Linked DNA regions of Homo sapiens. The protein of the gene in region 3 interacts with the protein of the main gene of each other region in a pairwise test. Each region holds a gene or a part of one and is shown on either strand. Other genes may lie near its edges. The genes, in order: COL17A1, SKIL, PPL, ZNF474, ZNF263, KCTD21 and ZSCAN1.

The links.
Region 1: the proteins of PPL (region 3) and COL17A1 interact in a two-hybrid assay, tested with the Homo sapiens proteins (one study listed by BioGRID).
Region 2: the proteins of PPL (region 3) and SKIL interact in a two-hybrid assay, tested with the Homo sapiens proteins (one large-scale study listed by BioGRID and IntAct).
Region 4: the proteins of PPL (region 3) and ZNF474 interact in binary tests that used the Homo sapiens proteins (3 or more experiments, as listed by UniProt).
Region 5: the proteins of PPL (region 3) and ZNF263 interact in binary tests that used the Homo sapiens proteins (3 or more experiments, as listed by UniProt).
Region 6: the proteins of PPL (region 3) and KCTD21 interact in binary tests that used the Homo sapiens proteins (3 or more experiments, as listed by UniProt).
Region 7: the proteins of PPL (region 3) and ZSCAN1 interact in binary tests that used the Homo sapiens proteins (3 or more experiments, as listed by UniProt).

The regions. Positions count from the first base shown.
Region 1 is NC_000010.11:104,054,881-104,058,380, reverse strand, and holds part of COL17A1 (collagen alpha-1(XVII) chain), read left to right. Parts: intron 1-190; coding exon 191-235; intron 236-1,208; coding exon 1,209-1,406; intron 1,407-2,377; coding exon 2,378-2,599; intron 2,600-2,979; coding exon 2,980-3,009; intron 3,010-3,373; coding exon 3,374-3,400; intron 3,401-3,500. UniProt on the Homo sapiens protein: May play a role in the integrity of hemidesmosome and the attachment of basal keratinocytes to the underlying basement membrane. The 120 kDa linear IgA disease antigen is an anchoring filament component involved in dermal-epidermal cohesion.
Region 2 is NC_000003.12:170,388,715-170,392,214, reverse strand, and holds part of SKIL (ski-like protein), read right to left. Parts: intron 1,993-3,500; coding exon 1,751-1,992; intron 1,180-1,750; coding exon 955-1,179; intron 1-954. UniProt on the Homo sapiens protein: May have regulatory role in cell division or differentiation in response to extracellular signals.
Region 3 is NC_000016.10:4,930,649-4,934,148, reverse strand, and holds part of PPL (periplakin), read left to right. Parts: intron 1-3,500. UniProt on the Homo sapiens protein: Component of the cornified envelope of keratinocytes. May link the cornified envelope to desmosomes and intermediate filaments. May act as a localization signal in PKB/AKT-mediated signaling.
Region 4 is NC_000005.10:122,146,546-122,150,045, forward strand, and holds part of ZNF474 (zinc finger protein 474), read left to right. Parts: intron 1-2,778; exon of another isoform or gene 2,779-3,500.
Region 5 is NC_000016.10:3,286,491-3,289,225, forward strand, and holds part of ZNF263 (zinc finger protein 263), read left to right. Parts: intron 1-1,963; coding exon 1,964-2,080; intron 2,081-2,735. UniProt on the Homo sapiens protein: Transcription factor that binds to the consensus sequence 5'-TCCTCCC-3' and acts as a transcriptional repressor.
Region 6 is NC_000011.10:78,175,127-78,178,626, reverse strand, and holds part of KCTD21 (BTB/POZ domain-containing protein KCTD21), read left to right. Parts: intron 1-641; exon of another isoform or gene 642-1,496; coding exon of another isoform or gene 1,497-1,575; intron 1,576-3,500. UniProt on the Homo sapiens protein: Probable substrate-specific adapter of a BCR (BTB-CUL3-RBX1) E3 ubiquitin-protein ligase complex mediating the ubiquitination and subsequent proteasomal degradation of target proteins. Promotes the ubiquitination of HDAC1.
Region 7 is NC_000019.10:58,037,025-58,040,524, reverse strand, and holds part of ZSCAN1 (zinc finger and SCAN domain-containing protein 1), read right to left. Parts: intron 2,798-3,500; coding exon of another isoform or gene 2,689-2,797; coding exon 2,319-2,688; intron 76-2,318; coding exon 1-75. UniProt on the Homo sapiens protein: May be involved in transcriptional regulation.

The DNA.
Region 1 (3,500 bases), on a different chromosome or scaffold from region 3:
CAAGCCATGTCTTCATGGATGTAATTATCGCAAATATCAGATTAGTGAGGACTGAGATGCTGGATGTTCCTGCACGTCGTTGAAAGCAAGTTTATTAAGAAAGTAAAGGAATAAAAAAATGGCTACTCCATAGGCAGAGCAGCTAGCTCCTCCAGTTTAAAAGCTCAGGTCAATCTGTTTGTCCTTTCAGGAGACCTGAAGACTGTGTCCACAAAGGGCAAGACCACCACTGCAGGTGGGTGAGAACCGCGAACCCTGCAGTGACAGGATCCAGTGGGGCTGCTTATGGCTAATGGACCAGATGATGGTCCCTCGCCTGGAAGCAGTGCAGTGCACAGAAGCCACCAGACTCTAAAGAGTTTCCCTAAAGGCTCAGAAGGGAGCAGGGTGGGGGTCAGGGGAGTGGCAGGCTGTGGGTCAGAGGTGGCCGCAGAAGGAGCTTAGCTCAGGGGATGAAGCTAACAGGCCCCCCGCCCCCAGCTGCCCCTAATTAACACTTGTTAGTTAGGTTGTCTCCTAACACAACAGGGTGACTGTGTCTTTACACAGCAGCTCAAGAAGAGACTAAGCCATGCACGCCTCCAGCCCCTTAGCCTTTCCTCATTTCCTTCCACCGCCGTGTGATAGAAGCAGGTCAAGTCCTACCACCCCATTTTAGGGAACTAAAAACACTTTTCATTACAAAAAACATTGTTTTAATTCACTAGGCACCCCTGAAGAGCTGAGTATAATTCTAGGCACTGTAAGGATTAAAGAAAGCACTGTGTGAACTGAGGCATGGAGATGGGAACGCTCTAGGTTTGGGCCCAGTCAGATGCAGACCAATGCTATATTCAAAATAAAGATGTTTAAGCCTCGTGCTGTGCTGCTAACTCCTCTACTATTTTACATTCCTTGTCCTATTTCATTCAACAACCTTCCCAAGAAGGAGGCAATCTTTTAACCCCATGTTATAAAAACGGAAACAAAGGTGAAGTGACCTTCTCAGGTTCACACAGCTGGAGCCAGGATTGCCAGACTTCTGGTCAGCACCAGTCAGGCCCTGTGCTCAGTCCAGGAGCCAGCCCTGTCCTGGGTGGAACAGCACAGGAACTTGAAAGCCCCCAGTCGTAGTCACTCAGGCCAGAAAGTCACCAAAAGTCAGAGAATCTGGAGGGAAAAGGCAGGAGCTGCCTGCATTTGCTTCATTTTCCCTGTCTCTTTCACAGATATCCACAGCTACGGCAGCAGTGGTGGTGGTGGCAGTGGAGGAGGTGGCGGTGTTGGTGGCGCTGGCGGCGGCCCTTGGGGACCAGCGCCAGCCTGGTGCCCCTGCGGCTCCTGCTGCAGCTGGTGGAAGTGGCTGCTGGGCCTGCTGCTCACCTGGCTGCTACTCCTGGGGCTGCTCTTCGGCCTCATTGCTCTGGGTACGTGGCAAAGGCAGCAGGGCAGCCTGTGTGGTAGGAGGCAGGCCAGCCCCACTGCCTGTCAGAAGGGCAGGAATCTGTGAATGGGCCCACGTGTTAGGGGGCGAGGGGACCTGAATGCATTGGTGCAGACCCTTGTTACCGCAGATGAGTAAACTGAGGCCCCAGGAGGTACCTGGCCAAGGACATGCTGCCACTTAGTGGTGGAGCTGAATTTGGATGCAGCGCCTGATGCTCAGCCCCACCCTTGCTACACCTGTAGGCCCTGGTCTAAGCACCTGGCTGCCCTTGGTAACAAGGTCAGGACTTTCTTAGCCTTTTTGACTTTTGCTGTTTCCAAGCAGCCATATCTATTTCTTTTCTTTCTTTTCTTTTTCTTTCTTTTTTTTTTTTGAGACGGCGTCTCGTTCTGTCGCCCAGGCTGGAGTGCAGTGGTGCAATCTCGGCTCACTGCAACCTCCGCCTCCTGAGTTCAAGCGATTCTCCTGCCTCAGCCTCCTGAGTAGCTGGGACTACAGGCGCATGTCACCACACCTGGCTAATTTTTTGTATTTTTAGTAGAGATGGGGTTTCACTGTGTTAGCCAGGATGGTCTCGATTTCCTGACCCCGTGATCTGCCCCCCTTGGCCTCCCAAAGTGCTGGGATTACAGGCTTGAGCCACCGCGCCTGGCCAGCCATATCTATTTCTATCAGCTCTCACACCACCTCACAGGGAGAGTGAGGACAAGCTTTGTCACCCAGCTCAGATGAGAAGACTGACTCCCAGGCCAGGTTTCTTTAAGGCTCTGCTGTGATGCTGAGCAGCTAATCCTGCTGGTGGCCACGGCAGATTATCTCTGCATGAGTATTCTAGCATGAAGAAGCCACCACAGGCCCCAATCCCTTGTGTCAGGCTCTCCACTAGGAGCGAGTGTATGGAAGGCGAAGGACCGGGCCCTCAGTGACGCAGTGTGTGTCTGTTTGTTGCAGCGGAGGAGGTGAGGAAGCTGAAGGCGCGTGTGGATGAGCTGGAGAGGATCAGGAGGAGCATACTGCCCTATGGGGACAGCATGGATAGAATAGAAAAGGACCGCCTCCAGGGCATGGCACCCGCGGCGGGAGCAGACCTGGACAAAATTGGGCTGCACAGTGACAGCCAGGAGGAGCTCTGGATGTTCGTGAGGAAGAAGCTAATGATGGAACAGGAAAATGGTGAGAGCATCGCCGGGCACAGGGCCAGCTCCCCTGAGTCCCTTTCTTCTTTGCATCTATGTGGTATGTGTGCATGTGCTGTGAGCACCATCATCCGGCCCACTCTCGGCCTCTCTCCTCCCCTGATCCTCTCAATAGCGCTGAGAGGTAGGTGGGACCAAGACTGTGGTCCCACTTTACTCCTGGAAAAACTGAGTTCTGGAAAGAATAATTGCTCAAGATCACTGGACTAGCCAAATTTAGAATCTGATCTCTAGTCTTTGCCTCAGTTTCTTCTTCCCATACCATGATCCCCTTATTGTGTGTGTGTGTGTGTGTGTGTGTGTGTGTGTGTGTGACAGGAGATGTGAAGCTGACTCAGGATTTGCTTTTTCTTGCAGGAAATCTCCGAGGAAGCCCTGGCCCTAAAGGTATTGCCATGGATTGAACCTTGTCTCTGATTCATTTCCTGCAGTTGGAAGTGAGTTTTCTGGGTAGATTAGAAGCCTTTTTCTTTGTTCTAAATGGAAGGATGAAGAGCTGAATGATCTTATGGTATCTGTTGGGAGGTATCTGTTGGTTTTAGAGTCAGAATATCTTAGATAAGGCAGCATCTAAGAGAAGCCCAGCAATGAGCCCAAATGACATAGACTCTGGGACTGGGAGGGACTCGCCGCATGTCGCCTCACCTTGAAATACAGTTTACATCTTGTCAAATGGTTTTAAAATACAAGGCAGAGTATGGCCTTTGGGTTCTTGCCCCATCTCACAGTTTTCATATCTTTCTGGTTTCAGGTGACATGGGAAGTCCAGGCCCTAAAGGTAATTATAACATGGGCATTTTTACCTTAAATATTAGCAAGTGTTAATTGTTTCAAACAATCAGCAAGTGTCAGAAAACCCACCTTGCACTCCAAGAAGT
Region 2 (3,500 bases), on a different chromosome or scaffold from region 3:
TCCATTTAATCCTCATATCATAGAAAATATCTATTTTCAAATTACTTTTTACAAAACGAACTATTTCATGTATACTAAATCCATTAAGCATCTAATACTATTAATCTGACATCTGACAGGACACTAAATTTAAGAAAAAGCAAAGGAACAAGAGGAAGGAACACATCCAGCATGTTCATGTTCATTATGCCCTATACTTTACTATACCGCTCATCACAGCCTGCTCATGTTAGTTATTTGTTCATGTTCCTTAAATTGTGAGATTCTATTAACAAAAGAGAATTGCTTATTTTTGCTCCAGTGCTTTTGAACATAACAGGCAACAGTTCCTGTTTGTTAATTTGTAGATTTGAAAGCTCATATACTACATTAAAATAATATAACATATAATATTCAGAGGGCTAGAGATTAGCAATTTAGGTAACTAAACTGCAGTAACCCGATAAAAATTTAAACTAATAAAAGCAACAAACATCAAAATAATCATCTTGGACAATACAGCATAAAGCTATGTTTAACAGAATTATCTATTTTGAAATCTAGCTTAGTAAACTGAGCTTGACAAAAAGTAATTCCTTTATTAGAGAAGTAACGGTGGCCGGGTGCAGTGGCTCATGCTTGTAATCCCAGCATTTTGGGAGGCTGAGGTGGGCAGATCATGAGGTCAGGAGTTCAAGACCAGACTGACCAACATGGTGAAACCCCGTCTCTACTAAAAAATACAAAATTTAGCTGGGCATAGTGTCGCACGCCTGTAATCCCAGCTACAATCAGGAGGCTGAGGCAGGAAAATTGCTTGAACCCGGGAGGCAGAGGTTGTGGGGAGCTGAGATTGTGCCACTGCACTCCAGCCTGGGCGACAGAGCAGTCTCTGTCTCAAAAAAAAAAAAGAGAGAAGTAACAGTTTCCATTTCCATGCTGAAAGGGCACCATTATACAAACAGTAATTCTTACCTGTCCTGCATATTCAGCCTCTTTGTCTTTTTCTAAATTTGAGTCACAGGTACATTTTTGCTTCATTATCTGCTCCAATTTTTTCTCTAAGTCTTTCTGTTCAACATAAAATTCTTCCATTCTTTGAGCATGTTCATTCTGCAAAGATTCAAGCTCTTTCTGTAAATTCTGCTGTTCTTCAGTGAGTTCCTTCATAGATTTTGAACTACTCAACATTTTTACTTCCTGTAATGTAAAGAATCACAATACAAGTTTTACTTTATTTTCACCATGTTAAAATTTTCAGTTCTGGAAAACATAGCACAGAAAATACCTAAAATTCAGCTATCATTATCAGTTCTATATAGAGGTAATTATTTTAAAAAACTATTTTCTCAAAAAATTTTAAAATATATTAAAATTGCTTTTCAGTGTAAAACAATAATCTTAAGTACATTTGTAGCATCTCGTTTTGACTTTTCTTACTAAGAATATACAGGGGGGCTGGGCGCAGTGGCTCACACCTGTAATCCCAGCACTTTGGGAGGCCAAGGCTGGTGGATCACAAGGTCAAAAGTTCGAGCCTGGCCAGCATGGAGAAACCCCATCTCTACTAAGAATACAAAATTTAGCCAGGCATGGTGGCACGTGCCTGTAATGCTAGCTACTCGGAAGGCTAAGGCAGAAGAATTGCTTGAACCTGTGAGGTGGAGGTTTCAGTGAGCTGAGACTGCGCCACTGCACTCCAGCCTGGGCGACAGAGCAATATACAAAAGTATCTTTTCATAATGGACTATCATTTAGATAACAATTTTACCATCTGAAGTTGTTGCTTCTTTTGCAAAATCAAGTTTAGTTTTTCCTGTTGTTTTAAATAAGTTCTCATTACTTCTTCCATGATTTTTCCCTTATCATCCTCACAAATGACATCTTTCACAAGAAGCGGAGATGAAGCGGCAGCAACAAGGCCAATTCCCACTTTGTTTATGTCTCTGACTAAGTTGCAAGTGGCAGACTCAGATTTCCTTTTACTTGTAGAATTATTTGAGATTGATGCATCTTGGAGAGAAAAAAATCAAGTAACAAAGTATGAATATCACTCCATTAAAAAAATCACTAGAACAATCCATAAATGTAATTTTTAAAACATTTCATTTATAAATTAGACCAAAACAAATAAAATAGGAATAAATTTAACAAAAGCAGTGCAAGTACAATGAAAACTACAAAACATCACTAAAAGAAATTTAAGACCTAAATACATGGAAAGACATCCCAAATTCATGGATTGGAAGACTTAATATTGTTAAGACAGTAATAGTCTCCAAATTGATCTACTTATCAGTGCAATCCCTATCAAAATCCCCACTGGATTTTTTGCAGAAATTGAAAAGCAGTTTCTAAAATCCATATGGAAATGCAACAAACCCAAAATAGGCAAAATAATCTTGAAAAAGAATAACGAAGTTGAAAGACTCACAATTCCCAATTTCAAAGCTTACTACAAAGCTACAGAAATCAAGACTGTGTGACATGATTTAAAGATAGACATACAGATCAGTAGAACAGAATTCAGAGTCCAGAAATTTAAAAAACTCATACTTTATAAGGCAATTGTTGTTGACAAAGGTGCCAAAGCAATTCAGTCAGGAAAGAATAATCTTTTCTGGCCAGGCGCGGTGGCTCACGCCTGTAATCCCAGCACTTTGGGAGGCCGAGAAGGGCGGATCACGACGTCAGGAGATTGAGACCATCCTGGCTAACATGGTGAAACCCTGTCTCTACTAAAAAATACAAAAAATTTGCCAGGCTTGGTGGCGGGCGCCTGTAGTCCCAGCTACTCGGGAGGCTGAGGCAGAAGAATGGCGTGAACCTGGGAGGCGGAGCTTGCAGTGAGCCGAGATAGCGCCACTGCACTCCAGCCTGGGCAACAGAGCAAGACTCCGTCTCAAAAAAAAAAAAAAAGGAAAGAATAATCTTTTCAACATACGGACAACTATATCCACATGCAAAAGAATAAGGTTGGACCTTATGCTGTATACAAAAATTAACTCTAAACTGATCAAAGACCTAAATGTAAGAGCTACAACCCTTAAACATAAATTTCTTGGCTGGATGTGGTGGCTCACGCCTATAATCCCAGCACTTTGGGAGGCCGAGGCAGGTGGATTACCTGAGGTCAGGAGTTCACCACCAGCCTGACCAACATGGTAAAACTCTGTCTCTACTAAAAATACAAAAAAAATTAGCCAGGCATGGTGGCGCGCACCTGTAATCCCAGCTACTCAGGAGGCTGAGACAGAAAAATTGGTTGAACCCGGGAGGTGGAGGTTGCAGTGAGCTGAGATGGCACCACTGTACTCCAGCCTGGGCAACAGAGTGAGACTCTGTCTCAAAAATAAATAAATAAATAAATAAATACATAAATAAATATTTCTTGGAATTGGGATTAGGCAATAGTTTCTTAGATATGATACCTAAAACAAGAAAAAAATAGATAAATTGGATGTAATAAACATTTAAAACTTTTGTGCTTCAAAGAACACTAACACGGCCAAGCGCGGTGG
Region 3 (3,500 bases):
GATGGTGCAGGTGACCGAGGACAGCCTCCAGCCTAGTAGAGAGGCCCTGGAGGAGACCCGCTGCCACCCTCCTGGCTGTGCGACCTCAGAGGAGCTGCTTGGCTTCTCTGAGCCTGTTTTCTCACCTGTGGGATGGGAATAAGCACGGTGCCTGCCTGGCGATGTTGGCTCAGGATTAAATGAAATAATGCAGGGGAAAGGTTGTGAATGATAAGCGGCCGCAGGTAATAGCATCTGTGACGATTACAGTTATTAAGCAAATGCGGGCAAGCTAGCTGTGGTGTACCCAGGGTTAAACTTGATATCATGGTGGACAGGCTGTGCACTGCACAATTCCATAGGCACTGTTGCTGGGTTTTAGCACGTGGTCGTGGAGGAGACGTGGACAACCTCCCTGCACTTGAGTCGCTGGCAGTCACATCACAGAGATAAGATGGAGTTAAGCTTCAGTACATGTATGGTTACATGAGCGTCGGACTGATGGGGCCAGGCAGGAGCAATGGAGCATAGAGCCGGACAGATGAGGTCTCCACCCTGGCCACTCACATACTTTGTGACAGGCCTCAAGTGAGAGTTGTCACAGTCAGAGCACAGATGCTGGGAGGTGAGGGAGGACTTCACAGAGGAGGCATCTGACCTGTCACGGGGTGGGATGGAGTGGCCAAGACCCAGCTCTGCAGTCAGGCTCAATTCTGCCTCTGCTTGAAAAGAAACATAGCATCCCTGAGCCCCAGCGCTTCTGAATTTGTTGAATGGGATTAATCTTGCCCCTCCACCCAGACCTGGGTCCCAGTAAACACCCAGCAGCCTGGCCTTGCCTAGACGGGTCTTGCAACACTGGGGCCGCCCTGATGGAGCGCTCCTGCATGGGAGGCAGGACCCCAGGCTTTGAGGGGAGAGCTGGCAAAAGGGAAGCATGCTCTACTGGGAGGCACCTGGGGTACCCTGAGCCTCTTAGTGGTTAAGAACACAGTGTTTTATTAGCTGGGCATGGGGGTGGGTGCCTGTAGTCCCAGCTACTCAGGAGGCTGAAGCAGGAGAATCCCTTGAACCTGGGAGGCAGAGGTTGCAGTGAGCTGAGATTGTGCTACTGCACTCCAGCCTGGGTAAAAGAGTGAGACTCTGTCTCAAAAAGAAAAAAAAAAAAGCAAGAACACAGTGTTTGATGCTAGCTGGGCATGAGTTCAGGCCGCAGCTCTGGGTCTCTTAAGCTGTTTGATCTTGGGCAAGTCACTTAATGTCTCCGAGCCTCAGTTTCTTCATCTATGAGGTGGGGTGACAACAGCAACCCCCAGTTGGTGAGGCTGCTGGGTAGATCAAATGAGGGGATGCACATGATGGGTCCAGCCCATGACCTGGTTCAGAGCGAGTGCCCGGCAAATCATAGCAGCCAATACTAGGAAGCACACACTGCTATTAAGAGTCATGACGGGCTGGGCGCGGTAGCTCACGCCTGTAATCCCAGCACTCTGAGAGGGTAAGGCGGACGGATCACTTGAGGTCAGGAGTTCAAGACCAGCCTGGCCAACATGGTGAAATCCCATCTCTACAAAAATAAATATTAAAAATTAGCTGGGTGTGGTGGCGGAAACCTGTAATCCCAGCCAGATACTGGGGAGGCTGAGGCAGGAGAATCACTTGAACCTGGGAGGCAGAGATTGCAGTGAGCCGAGATCACACCACTGCACTCCAGCCTGGGAGACAGAGCGAGACTCCGTCTCAAAAAAAAAAAAAAAAGATTCATGACTGAGCCAAGCCCAGAGCTGACCAGGGAGCTGACTCAAGCAGACACGCACATGCACCCATCGATCAGTGTTGGTAGGAACGCCTGATCGATATGGGAGGGGACCCATGTGGGTAACAGCTTAGAGAGAGCCGCCCCGCCATTTCTCAGGCACATACTGTGAGCCCAGCAAGGCCATGGATGTTACATCTCATTCTGACAGCGGGCCTGCCATGCAGGTGGAAGTGTCCTGTTTCACAGAGGGCTCACATTCACCTTGAGCTCACAGCTCACAAATGGCTGATGCTGGAAGTCCAGGGGGGCCTGGGGAAGCAAATGAGGCCTCCCCACTCGTACCTGGATCTGGCAGCAACTGTGCCTGGGGACTGCTCCAGGCCAAATGGTAGAGTCATTGGTGTTTGTGCTCACTGCCTCTACCCCCAGCAACCCCCTCTACCTCTCTTCTCTCTAGCTTTGCCCCTCCATCCCTTGCCCAGTTCTCTTGGAAGAAGGAATGAGACTGGATAAATTCGATTCAGGACAGAGCTGAGCTTACCTGGAGGAACAGCTGCTAATGGTAGCATTTCAGGCACTGTCGGGCGGATCATGTTGGGAAAGGGTATTTTGGGGGAGAGACTCAGCTCCGTCCACACCCTTTAAGCAATACCCTAAGGGTGTGGTTGGGGGAGGCCCTGGAAGTAGGGGACCTGGGGGAGAAGCTGCTTTAGAGAGCTTCCAAAGCTCCTCGTCTGGGGAAGAGAACCCTGGCTTCCCAGCGTGCAGCTGCTCTCTGCTCCCGGCAGGTCTGTGCCGGTGTTACCGGCACCACCTTGCATCCTCCCAGCCTGCCTGCCCCGGCCTGTCTTGGGAGCGAATGGGGAAACGGCCTCTGGTCTTTGTTCTCCCGGCTTCTGATGGGTTGCTGTGCTGCAGCCTCTGGAGCCCGGGAGGCCACCTGGTGCCCCTTTCTGCCTCCGGGTGGGACAAAGCTCTCTTCAGGTCCCAGCCCTGCCCTTCCCTACCCCAACCTATTTTTTTTAAGTGTTCTTTCTTTATTCTTTAGAGACAGGCTGTCACTGTATCACCCAGATTGGAGTGCAGTGGTGCGATCATAGCTCACTGTAGCCTTGAACTGCTGGGCTCAAGCAATCCTCATGCCTCAGCCTCCCAAGAAGCTGGGACTACAGGTGTGCACACCACCGTGCCCCGCTAATTTTTAATATTTGTAGAGATGGGGTCTCACTATATTGCCCACTCTGGTCCTGAACTCCTGGGCTCAAGTGAGCCTCTTGCCTTAGCCTCCCAAAGCACTGAGATTACAGCCATGAGCCACTGCACGCAGGCCCTTTCCCTTTAAATGGATCCCCACTTCTCCCTGCCTGCAGAGCCAGCAGCCCAGCAGGCCTCCAGTCCCTCTTCACTGTTCCTTCTTCCACTCCAGCGCTCCAGTCCCTTCTCCCCATGGCAGCCAGGGAGCTCCTTACGACATAAATCTGACCATACCTCCAGCTGCTTAACCCCTGCCCCAGACCTCTCTTTGCTCTTAGGCCCTGGGAGCTGGTGCCCTGCACATCAACATGTGCCTGTCACCGTCTTGTTTCCACGCTGTGCCCGGCCACAAGGCCTTTCCCTCTGCCATTCCTGTTGCCCAGAATGCCCCTCCCACCCCTTTTCACTGCTTCTCTTCCACTTCCAGGTTTACCTTCTGTTCCTCAGGGAAGCCTTCCCCAACCTCTCTGCTGGGGTAGATCCACCTATTCTATGGACTCCCCTTCTC
Region 4 (3,500 bases), on a different chromosome or scaffold from region 3:
AAATCTGAAATTTGAAATAACATTATTAGGATGAATTGTGCTAATCACCAGTATTAAAATACAGATATCTCTCAATTAGTATTAGGTTTCCATGTGAATAACAGACTCTTAAAAATGGCTAAAATAAAAATAAAAATTTACTTTTCTTATGTAAATAAAGTCCAAGAAAGGCACTCCAGGGCTTCTATGATGGTTCCAGCATTACCAGGGACCCAAGTCCATCCAGGCCTCTGCTCTGTCATATCAAGTGTTACATAAATGAAATCTGTTCTCAACTGGCTGCTAAAGCGCCAGTCATCACATCCATCTTCGAAGCATCAGTAAGAAGGAAAGGAAGAGAAGCAATTGTTCTCTTCTTCCTTTTCAAGAATTGTTCTTACAAGTTCCACACAATATTTTCACTAACTACAAAGGAGCTTGTAGATGTGCCCAGCTGAAAGTTGGGGCTCTATTAATTGAGGGAGTTGAGTGGAATGGCTATTGGTAAGGAACTAACTGTCTCTGCCGGACATTAGAAGGGACATTATCTCATCAATTATAAGCCTTGGTGTAAATGAGTCCATCAGTTCCTTTTTGAAAGCAAGATTTCATAGGTAAGACGGACTGGTGAGCATACAAGAATACTAGGCTGGAGAGTGGAGGCTGCTGAATGGGGTGGGTGAACAACATTGAAGATGAACCTCCTCTATTTTAGAATCTTGATCAGAGCCACCATCAGCCCCAACTCCATCTTTCTTGTTTATGTTTTTGTTCATTTAAAGAATTTGAATTCAATACTAATAGAGAAGGGATCATATCATGTATCAACTATATTTCTTTTGTTTCAAAGGGCTAGATTTTTTTATATACTTTAAGTTCTAGGGTAAATGTGCACAACGTGCAGTTTCGATACATAGGTATACATGTGCCATGTTGGTTTGCTCCACCCATTAAATCATCACTTACATTAGGTATTTCTCCTAATGCTATCCCTCCCCCATCCCCCCACCCCACAACAGGCCCCCATGTGTGATGTTCCCCGTGCTGTGTCCAAGTGTTCTCATTGTTCAGTTCCCACTTATGAGTGTGAACATGAGGTGTTCGGCTTTCTGTCCTTGTGACAGTCTGCTCAGAATGATGGTTTCCAGCTTTATCCATGTCCCTGCAAAGGACATGAACTCATCCTCAAAGGACTAGATTATTTTTTAAAAGATATGATCACACTTTTCATTGTGTTCTGTTCCCTCTCTTTTAGAGAGACACCTTCTAATGCCAAGATGGTTTTTGGATTTCCACGGTTATTACATTCTTCTTTGTGTGTTTGTCTCTCCCTTCCCATGAACCCTGAAGAGAATGGAAAAATGGCATCATGTTGATAAAAGGTGATGCCTTCCAGGACATTCTGTAAATGTCCTATGTGCAGATATGGTCAAAACGAATAATTCAGGCCAACTGAGTGAACATTTCTCCAGAGATGCTTGAGGTAAAACTGTCTGGCTTTGCAAAGTGGTTCTCTTTATAAACTAGCAACATTGCTTTATGACGTTTTGGGTGACAGGCCAATTTCTTATGTGATTTAAGTATATGCATTTAGTATTTTCCAGCACTTTTGCTTTTAGAGCTAACTTATAAAGGGAGAGCAACCAACACTGCTGTGCCATGGCATGTTGCCTTTGCACAGTCACTGGCAGAAACATTACGCATTTCTCCATAAGACACCTCCGTTCCCAAAAATTTCACTGGCTTCCAGCTACCTCATCTTTCATATTTTGATACCTTTAGTCACAATAAGGGAAAAATTTCAGGAGAACATTGGAGAAGGAAAGGGATGGTAGAAAAAGAAAAGTTGAAGATTCAAATGGACGTTTTGTGATGTTTCATCGTGTTTGCTGCAGAGAAAATATTTGCAGTGCACAAATGTTTGTGTGCGGTAAGATCTATCCCTAATCAAATGGTGACATGGCTTCAAACTGAGCACTACCTGGCCTCTTGGGGCAGCCTTCACTTTTACCCTGTGCCCATGATCAAGACAGACAAAACACATCATTCATCGTTGGTCTGCCCCATTCCCCCAACTGGTCCCTACCTCTGCTGGTTATGTAGATTTTTCTGAAGATATTGGTGAAATTAAGAAAAGAATCTGTACTGCACATCACTCAGGAAAAACTACATCTAGAAAACAACTGTATATGGCAAAAGTGATTCTTTTTTTTCTTTTTTTTTTCTTTTGAGATGGAGTTTCACTCTTGTCAGCTAGGCTGGAGTGCAATGGCGCGATCTTGGCTCTCTGCAAACTCTGCCTCCCGGATTCAAGCGATTCTCCTGTCTCAGCCTCCTGAGTAGCTGGGATTACAGCCACCATACCCAACTAATTTTTGTATTTCTAGTAGAGACGGGGATTCACCATGCTGGCCAGGCTGGTCTCAAACTCCAGACCTCAGGTGATCCGCCCACCTCGGCCTCCCAAAGTGCTGGGATTACAGGCATGAACCACCGCGCCCGGCCTGGAAAAAGTGATTCTTAATGCAGAAACAGAAAACCAAATACCACACGTTCTCACTTATAAGTGGGAGCTAAACGTCAAGTACACGTGGGCATAAAGATGAGAACAACAGATAGTGAATGCAAGCGGAGGAAGGGCTGAAAAACTACCTATTAGGTACTATGCTTACTACCTGGGAGACAGATTCATGTGTACTCCAAACCTCAGCATTACACAATATGCCCATATACCAAACCTGCACATGTACCCCGAACCTATAATAAAAGTTGAAGAAAAAAAGTCCCCTGTCACTTAACATTGAAAACATTGTGTTCCATAGCCCCAGTCTCTCTCTTCTGCTTTGTCCCTCTCAGAGGCTTCTCCTCTGTGCCTTGTCTGCACTCCTCCTTCTTGCCTCTTCTTTCTTCTAAAAGGAAGCATAACAGCTGGTGAGAGCTTAGTTACCTTCCCCTGAGGCATATGGATAATACATTAAAACAGGGATAAAAACTAAAGGGAAGAAGCTCTGCTGGAGGAATTTAGGCAGAATGAATAATGGAAAGAGCCACGTATTGGAGCCAAAGAGAGCTGGAATTGATTCACAGTTCTGTCATTTAGAAACTGACAGTCTTGGGCAAATTACTTGTCTTTTCTGAGTCAGTTTCTTTACTTATAAAGTTGAAATAATAATACCTGCTTCATAATCATTTGAGAATTAACTAAAATTATGTTTACAAAAAATCTGTGCCCTATCTGGCATATAATTGGCATTCAGTAAATATTACCTCTCTTGCCTTATCAAAAGGGAGATGGAGGGGTTGCTGGGGAAAGTCATGGGGATTTCTCAGTATTCTAATCTGCTGGAAACAGAATTGACTCTGTGTGTGTGTGTGTGTGTGTGTGTGTGCGCGCGTGAGAGAGAGAGAGAGAGAGAGGGAGGGAGAAAGAGACAGAGAGAGAGAAAGAGAGGCAGAGACAATTTAGGGGAAGGAGGCTTATTTGATTGCATTGATTTTTCTAATCTGTCTTCTTAAGTCAT
Region 5 (2,735 bases), 1.6 Mb from region 3:
AATTTTCAGATGCTTATTCTTATGAGCTCGCCAGTGTTTCCTGTGTTCCGTTAGTGTTTCTAGGCTCGTCCCCAAAGACAAAAATTTCAGGGGTAGTAGGATCAACATTCCAGCCTATCATCTCTCACAGCCCATAAAAATTCAGAAAGTGGGGAGGGTCTTGTGGAAATTTGGAAACAATGTATAGCTCCAAAGTAGGCCATATCATAAATTAAGATTTACCTATGTCTTGTACTGTACTCAGAGTTTTAAAATTATGCCTACGGAATATGACAGACTGACATATAGTTGGATTTAGGTGGAGGATATGCTTGTATTTATTGTACAATTCCCTCAACTTTTCTGTATGTATGAGAATTCTTTTAATAAAAAGTTGGGGAAGTCTTAACATAAAACAAGACTGTGTGTACATTATGATTATACCTATGTTGAAACACACCAGTAGAAAGACTCACTGGTGTGGTGGTGGTAGTCCCAGTTACTCAGGAGGCTGAGGGGAGAATCACCTGAGCCCAGTAGGTCAAGGCTGCAGTGAGCTATGATGATGCCACTGCACCTCAACCAGGTGACAGAGTGAGACTCTGTTTCAAAACAAACAAGACACACCGCACATTGTTTCCATATATCAGGTTTGCCTAAAAAGTATCACAACTGTACATTTGTTGACACTAATTCTGCAAACGCAATCTTGCTCACTGCAACCTCTGCCTCCCGGGTTCAAGTGATTCTCCTGCCTCAGCCTCCAGAGTAGCTGGGATTACAGGCATGCGCCACCACACCCGGCTAATTTTTTGTATTTTTAGTAGAGACAGGATTTCTCCATGTAGGTCAGGCTCATCTTGAATTCCCGACCTCAGGTGATCCACCCGCCTCCCAAAGTGCTGGAATTACAGGTGTGAGCCACCACACCCGGCCTTTTTTTTTTTTTTTTTTTTTTTTGAAGTGAGTCTCACTCTGTTGCCCAGGCTGCTCTGGAACTTCTGGGCTCAAGCAGTCTTCCTGCCTTAGTCAGGAAGTGTGCCACTGTACCAGTTTCCATATTACTTTTCACTGCTGTGATGTCCAAAGTTGAACATGGCCCTTTTAGTGAGAGATGCTAAATAGGAAAAGATCAGATTACAGCTTGTTGGAATTAAACTTCTGTTGGAGTCCATGTTTGCTGGAGGTGGAGGTTTTTGTTTTTCTTTTTGGCACAGCATAGAAATGGCACTTGTGGGTTTTAATCTCATGGTCCTCTTAGAGCCCTGGGTCCTTTTCTGATTGTCTATTATGTTATATTTTCTTTCCCTGGAGTTGTCCGGTCAAATTTAGTTCTATTTTGTATTTATATGTAGAGACAAGGCCCTTTTATGATATTAAATGGATTATTCAAGGAACTGACCATGTTCATTTTATAGTTATTTCAATTACAGTAGTGTACATTCTCATTGCAAAAAAAAACATTCCAAGTACCATGAATATTTAAAAAAAAAAAAAATTGGCCGGGCGCAGTGGCTCACACCTGTAATCCCAGCACTTTGGGAGGCCGAGGCAGGCAGATCACTTGAAGTCAGGAGTTCGAGACCAGCCTGGCCAACATGGTGAAACTCCATCTCTACTAAAAATACAAAAATTAGCCGGGTGTGGTGGTGCACGCCTGTAATCCCAGCTACTTGGGAGGCTGAGGCAGGAGAATCGCTTGAACCTAGGAGGCAGAGGTTGCAGTGAGCGGAGATCGTGCCACTGCACTCCAGCCTGGGCGACAGAGTGAGACTCTGTCTCAAAAAAAAAAAAAAAGTCTCCCTCCCCTAATTTCTTTCTCTAGAGGTATCCACTGGGAACAGTTTGTGTATATTCCAAGTAACTGCTGTCAGATTTATGGAGCATTCTGTATTTATCCACTGAGGGCAGGGAACAAGACTGTTTCCCTACCCTGGTAGAGGAAAGTGGCAGTACAGAAATCTGTTTCTTTCATTGTGAACAGAGTCTCACATTCCCAGTCAGGAGGTCCCAGGCACCCAGGTGGGACAAGGAGGAAAGCTATGGGATCCCAGTGTCCAGAGCTGCAAGGAGGGCCTGAGCCCCAGAGGCCCAGCTCCAGGTAAGGAATGAAGACAAGTGGCCTGCGCAGCAAGCAGCAAGGCTCTTGCAGTTAAGAGTGAGGCATTTTTTGGTTTTGTTTTGTTTTGTTTTGAGATGGAGTGGCACTCTTGTTGCCCAGGCTGGAGTGCAACAGTGCGATCTCGGCTCACTGCAAGCTCCGCCTCCCAGGTTCAAGCGGTTCTCCTGCCTCAGCCTCCCGAGTAGCTGGGATTACAGGCATGCGCCACCACGCCCAGCTAATTTTTTGTATTTTTAGTAGAGTCGGGGTTTCTCCATATTGGTCAGGCTGGTCTCCCTGACCTCAGGTGATCCACCCACCTCGGCCTCCCAAAGTGCTGGGATTTACAAGTGTGAGCCACCGCCCCCAGCAGAGTAAGGCATTTGAGGATTTGGGTGCAGGGCCGGCCCAGCACAGCTGCTAGAGAGGTACATTACGTCCTTTGACCCTGCCATTCTCCATCCCAGTGAGGCAAGTGAGGAACCCAGGGTGCAGAGTTCAAGGAGGCCCTTATTCTTGAGCTTACTTGTCCCACCCTACTCTCAGCCCTGCTCCATCCCACCCATTCCTGAAGGGCAGAATCGAGAGGCTCAGGTGGAAAGGAAAATTCTAAGACTGGTCTCGGCTCTGATTCCTTGACCAGTGGCCCGACCCT
Region 6 (3,500 bases), on a different chromosome or scaffold from region 3:
TCCAAGTGGAGGTGGCCAGGAGGCATCTGGGAACACATAGGGGACTGAGGCTCAGTGGTGTTAGTTCATTACTACCTGACTGCAAACCTCCGCCGACTCATGAAACTCCCCTCGTGTCATGTCATTTTGCCTTTTGTAGCAGGGCCGTGGATTTGTGATGATGGACACTGTGGCCCTGTGGCTAGAAAATAGGGGCTTAGACCAGGCACGGTGGCTCACGCCTGTAATCCCAGCACTTTGGGAGGCCGAGGCGGGCAGATCACAAAGTCAAGAGATCGAGACCATCCTGGCCAACATGGTGAAATCCCATCTCTACTAAAAATACAAAAATAAATTAGCCGGGCCTGGTGGCGTGCACCTGTAATTGCAGCTACCCGGGAGGCTGAGGCAGGAGTGTCGCTTGAATCTGGGAGGCAGAGGTTGCAGTGAGCTGAGATTGCGTCACTGCACTCTAGCCTGGCGACAGAGCGAGACTCCATCTCAAAAAAAAAAAAAGAAAAGAAGGGCTTAGAGGACTGAGCTCTGTGACTGGATAGGTAAGGGGAGATCACCACAGAGAGCACCCTAGACTCGGAGCAGGAGACCTGCCTGCTAGCCAGCCTCTGCCCTGACTGCCTGTGCAACTGTGCTGCTCTCCCCAGACAAATGACCGGGAGCCATGACGTCATCGGGGGCGCAGGAAAGCAGGTGCTCTGCTGCTTTTGCAAGCAGAGAAATAAGAGTTTGGGCACCTACCCAGGGGTCCCAGGGAATGCCCTGTGGCTCCTGACCTCCCCCGCCTGTAATGCTCTGAGCACTTCAGCAGTAATGCATGGAAGAGATAAGGGTCTGTGACCCATGGAACTGTCCAAGTCCTCTCTGACACCCGCTTCTTTTCCTGCCGTGAAGGTAAGCCACTTTATAGATCCTAGGCCTGAAACCCAATGTTGGGAGGGAGTGTTTGTTTTCAAGAAGAAAGAGAGACTGAAACTAGAACATGCACATTTCTATCCAGAAGAAAACAGTTGGAGTAGACTAGAGTCCTACAAAGAGGGCAACAGGGAAGAAGATTCTGGACTGAGTAAAGGGGACCCACTCCTGGGTCCACCTCCTGCCTGGGCCCTCTGGAGAGAGAATTGGCCAGATTCAGCCCTGAGTCACAGCACCCTCCCCAGTTGCTGCCTCACAGCCATCTCCACACCAGCAGCCATGCCCCCAGCGGCAGCTCGCCCACACCTCTGTGGGACCTCCCCACCGTCTCGCAGCCCATCTGCTCCAGGCTTCTACTGACGATTTCGTATTTCACATGGACTCATTTCTCCTCAGACACTCCAGATGGGGAATGCCTTTCTGCAATATCAAAGTGCCCCATTAGACTGGGGAGGAATCATGAGGGGACATACCCCTGCCCCTGCCACAGAGTCGAGCATGGCAGCTGAATATCTCTCACACTGGCATGGCCCCCATCCTCTGGAGAAAGGAGGCCTCAGTGCAGTCAGCCTCTTCAGGAGGCAGAAATGTTGAGAAGTTCTCGCCACCCCTGCTGGGTGACTTTGGGGAGGTGTCTCCTCAGACCTCTGTTTCTCCATCTGGACGGTAAGCATGCTTGAAAGGTTGGGTTTTTGTTTGTTTTTTGAGACCGGATCTCCCTCTGTCTGCCAGGCTGGAGTTCTGTGGCGTAATCACGGCTCACTGCAGCCTCAACCTCCCAGACTCAAGCGATCCTCCCACCTCAGCCTCCCAAGTAGTTGGGACTACAGGTGCTCGCCACCACACCCTGCTTTGTTGTTGTTGTTGTTGTTGTTGTTGTTGTTGTTGTAGAGACAGGATTTCGTCATGTTGGCCAGGCTGGCCTTGAACTCCTGAGCTCAAACGATCTGCCCACCTCGGCCTCCCAAAGTGCTGGAATTACAGGCATGAGCCACTGTGTCTGCCAGCCAGATAGTTTTTGATGTGCCAAGGTTCATTCCAGACCATCTCCCACATCTTCTACCTGTCTTGTCACTGTGCCTTTACTCTCTCATCTCCTCTACCAGCACAGGCTCTTCTGGGGGTAATACTGGGGCCAGTTCCTCTTGGCATCCCTACCTGCCATGTCAGGGAAGGATTGCTGAATCTGGTCCACAGGTTGGCTCTGGGGAAAGTATAGTGTTGGAAGCTGGAGCTGAGATCTCCTGTTTTCTAGAACATGTGGTGAAGGAGACTTGCCAGCCATAGATGCTGACAGCTGAGAGATTAGGGGGGCTTTGTTAAGGAGTGGATAGGGTGCCTTCAGGAGAGTGCTCTGACAGAGTCCTGCATTTGCACTGACCTTGCAGCCAGTTTCAGAGAAGCTTGGGGTGTTATGACAGCAAAGGACAGGCCACCAGGAGCCAAGAGCATCTTCATGGCAAGGCAAGTCAGCATGGGAGCAGTGAAAGTCTAGAAAGGATTGTCATTCACATGCACACGTATGTTTATTGCGGCACTATTCACAGTAGCAAAGACTTGGAACCAACCCAAATGTCCAACAATGATAGACTGGATTAAGAAAATGTGGCACATATACACCATGGAATACTATGCAGCCATAAAAAATGATGAGTTCATGTCCTTTGTAGGGACATGGATGAAATTGGAAATAATCATTCTCAGTAAAGACTACTGCAAGGACAAAAAACCAAACACCGCATGTTCTCACTCATAGGTGGGAATTGAACAATGAGAACACATGGACACAGGAAGGGGAACATCACACTCTGGGGACTGTTGTGGGGTAGGGGGAGGGGAGAGGGATAGCATTAGGAGATATACCTAATGCTAAATGACGAGTTAATGGGTGCAGCACACCAGCATGGCGCATGTATACATATGTAACTAACCTGCACATTGTGCACATGTACCCTAAAACTTTAATAATAATAAAATTTAAAAAAATTTAAAAAAAACAGGATTGTCATTTGCAGTCCGGACAGCTGAGTGACCCACTGTGGGCCTTGAAGATAGATGGAAATGACACTAATCATGGCCATTCATTGTCAAATCTTTGAGAGAGAATAATAATTAAATTCAGCAGTGTCACTGGTACAGAAGGAGGAGCACTGAGCCTGGAGTCATAAATCTCAAACCATTTGTTGAGTACTTAGAACCGATCTTTGGCTAGTAAGCATTTACACATTTTTCTTTCATATAAAAGGACCTGAGTTTGAATCCTGGCAAGGCACTTCACCTTTCTGAGCTTGAGGAATGAATCCTGGCACAGTTTTCCTCATCTGCACAACAGGAATGGATGATTATATTGTCTGTGTCAAAAGATGATACAACCTTTTTTTTTTTTTTTTTTTTGAGACAGAGTTTCACTCTTGTTGTCCAGGCTGGAGTGCAGTTGTTCAGTCCCGGCTCACTGCAACCTCCACCTCCTGAGTTCAAATGATTCTCCTGCCCCAGCCTCCTGAACAGCTGGGATTACAGGCACCCACCACCATGCCCAGCTAATTTTTGTATTTTTAGTAGAGATGGGGTTTCACCATGTTGGCCAGTCT
Region 7 (3,500 bases), on a different chromosome or scaffold from region 3:
ACCTTGGACTCTTCCCATCTTCCTCCTCACCGAAACTCCAGTCCTGGGGTTCGACCGAGTCCAGAGATACCAGAACTGTGCGGGAGAAAGGGATCGTGAGAGGGGCCTGTTCTTCCCAGAGCCCCCAATTCTCCAGGCCTTCTGGGGAGGGCAGACTTTCCCCGAACATCCCTGCAGCACCCCTGAGGCGCAGGCAAGAGTGGCTGCAGGGCTGTCATTCTGTCCCTCCATGTGGCTGCTGGGCAGGAACCTGTGGTGACACCGAGGGCCGCTGAAGACAAGTACCCTCTTCACTCATACTCCACACCCCTGTGCGCCTCCAGAAGCCCACGAGGACACACACTGCAGCACTGACTAACTAGGGAGGCCCGAGCACTGTGAGCCCTCTGCTCCCCAAGCCCCCCGGGGCTGTGTGCACAGAGTGCACAGAGGACGACTGCTGAAGCAGGGTTCAGGACACCATTGACAGAAGGGTCAAGACGTGGGAACCAGGCCAGGCGTGGTGGCTCACACCAGTAATCCCAGCACTTTGGGAGGCTGAGGCAGGAGGACTGCTTGAGCCCAAGAGTTTGAGAGCAGCCTGGGCAACACAGCAAGACCCCCCCCTATTTATTTTTTAATTAAAAAAAGAAAAATTCAAGATCACGGCCACCTCTGGGGTGTCAGGCAGAGCGGGGGACAACAGGACTAGGAGACGTGCATGGGGGTTCAGCTGATTCCACTGGTTGTTCCTTTTTTTTTTTTTTTTTTTTTTGAGACGGAGTCTCGCTCTGTCGCCCAGGCTGCAGTGCAGTGGCGTGATCTTGGCTCACTGCAAGCTCCGCCTCCTGGGTTCAAGCGATTCTCCTGCCTCAGCTTCCTGAGTAGCTGGGATATAATATAGGCACGCGCCACCACGCCCGGCTAATTTTTGTATTTTTAGTAGAGACGGAGTTTCACCATGTTGGCCAGGCTAGTCTCGAACTCCTGCCTTGTGATCCGCCTGCCTTGGCCTCCCAAAGTGCTGAGATTACAAAGCATTTCCTAGGTTGGGCTTTGATAAGGGTGGGTGGCCGGTGCAGGGCTGTTCATTATACTTGCTCTACTGTTTCATAGGCTCAAAATATGGAATGTAGAAAGCAGACCACCGCTATGGAAGACAGATAGAGAGCCCTTTGCTCAAAAACGTTGAATTTTGAGAGTGACCATGGAACATTAAAACTAGCAAGGGTGGCTCTGGGCTGGGATGGCTGTGAGGTCCACAGAGCGCCAGAAGCCAGTGCTCTTGGGCCCTCTACCCCAGGATCAGAGAGTTCAAAGGGCCAATTCATCTGGCTTCTGCCTTGCAGCTTACAGGGCTACCCTTGAGCCTCTGGAAAGCTCAGCTGTCACAGCTTTCCTAAGTGTGGCACCGGCTGCCCTGGGGCAGTAAGGGGACCCTGGACCCTGTGTTCTGCAAACTGCTTATCACTGTTGGTCTACGGAAATGCTGTAGTGGGAGGGTGCAAAGGGAGGGCCTGTTCCTCTCCCTTGCTCCACCCCTCTTTTCTGTGAGCTCTGATGCAACCCTTCTCACTCCCAGCCTTTGCTCCTGCAGCGTGGCTGCCTGGCACCCTCCTTGCTGGGGCCCTGCTGGGGAAGCCCTCCCGAGGCCACAGTGCCACGACTGCTCTCACCATCCGTGGCTGCCTCTTTTGGCCTCCCAGTGTCCAATCCCTGCACTTTTGTCACTAGGAAAGAAAGAGCCCCACTCATGGGACTGGGCCCTGGGTGGATGGAATCTCGACGTGGGGTCACAGGGGCAAAGATGCAGAAGGACAAAGCCCTGTCAGGGGAGAGGGGAGCTGAGAGAGGAGACAGGGAGGGAGCCCAGTTTCAACCCCAAATTTCCCAGCTCCCAGAGTCGGGATGCAGACCTAAGCGTCTCTCCCCACCATCAGCCAGCGATGGGGCCTGCGCCCTGTGAAGGCTTAAGGATCTCTAGGATTCCTGAGTGTTGCAGGAGGCGCTGCAGGTGGCTGGGAGGAAGTGGCGAGGCAGCGTCCTTCCCAGAGAGCAGCCGTGAGGAGCAGCAGACACAAAGCCACAGGACAGATGGACGCATGGGAAATGGAGGGATCTTTAATCACCGACTGAGTGAGAAATTCGAGGCAGATGAGGCGTGCAGCACATTTATATGTAAAAATAATTAAAAACACAGCCGCGGGGCAGGAGAGGTTTGCTGGTCGGGAGGGGCCGGGCAGGGGTGGGAGCGATGTGGGCGGGAAGGAGGGCAGTTCGGTCCTCGGAGACGTCAGGCCCCCTGGCCCGGCCCGGGGCAGGAAGCCTGCGCCTCTCACCTTCCTGCTGGCACATCTGTGTGAGGTCCTCCACCAGGCTGGCGGCCTCCCTGCAGCTTCGGGGGCCCTGTGACTGCACCCAGGTCCGCATCTTGCTGGGCAGCGCGCCCAGGAACTGCTCCAGCACCAGCAGCTCCAGCATCTGCTCCTTGGAGCGCGCCTCGGGCCTCAGCCACTGGCGGCACAGCGTCCAGAGCTGGCCCAGCGCGAGGTGCGGCCCGCTCGCCACGTGGTACTGGAACTGCCGGAAGCGCAGACGCTGGGCTTCGGTGTCCCTGGGGCTTGCTGGCCCAGGGTCTGCGTCCTGCTCACTCGGGGTTGGGGTCTGGGGGCGTCTGGGGGAGGCAGGGGCTTTGGGCCGTGGAAGCATTTCTCTGGCCACAGTGCCCCTCTGAGGGGTGTGTGTGGACTGGATCCCGAGTCCCAGTGGCTCCGGACAGAGCCGGTGTGGCAGGCGGACAGAATCAGCAATCAGGGGCCTGCAGAGAGGGGCAGGGACAGAGGGGTCACATCAGATGGTGGCCCTCTGTACTCAGGATGCCCCTCGGCTCCTTACTTCCTTGTTCTGACCTCCAGCACCCCAAGGAACCAACCTGACCTCTTCCCACCTTCTGACCTAATCTTCCACATGCCTCTCACAGGCTACTTTGCACTGAGTTCAAGCCACTGGCTGCCCCAGGACCTTTGCACCTGCCATCCCACCCCAGCCCCTCCCCTTCCCACCCCAGCTCCTCCCCTCGCAGATGTCCTGGCCATCATCCTTATGGCACTGTCTTCATAACCTCCATGACTTTCTGAACACAACTTTTCCCCTTACTTAGTGTCTATCTCCCTCTCATTTAGTCATTCAACACACATTGACTGACGAGCTGCGGGAACAAGAATGCCTGCCCCGTGGTGTGGCCAGCACTGCCCAGTGAAGTTCCTACAGGGATGTAAAGATTCTCTACCCATGCAACCACCTACGTGTGGCTAGGAGCACCTGAAATAGGAACTGAATTTTAAATTTAAATTCCATTTAAATGGAAGCAGCCAGGTGGGCTACATAATAATGGATGACACCACCACCAGCAGCAGGTCTACCCATGGTGTTATCTTTGCTGTCTTCCTGACTTTCCTACCAGGTCCAAGCTGGGGGTGGAGACCAGGAAGAGGGCAAGGGAGACTGGAGACTCTGAAAAG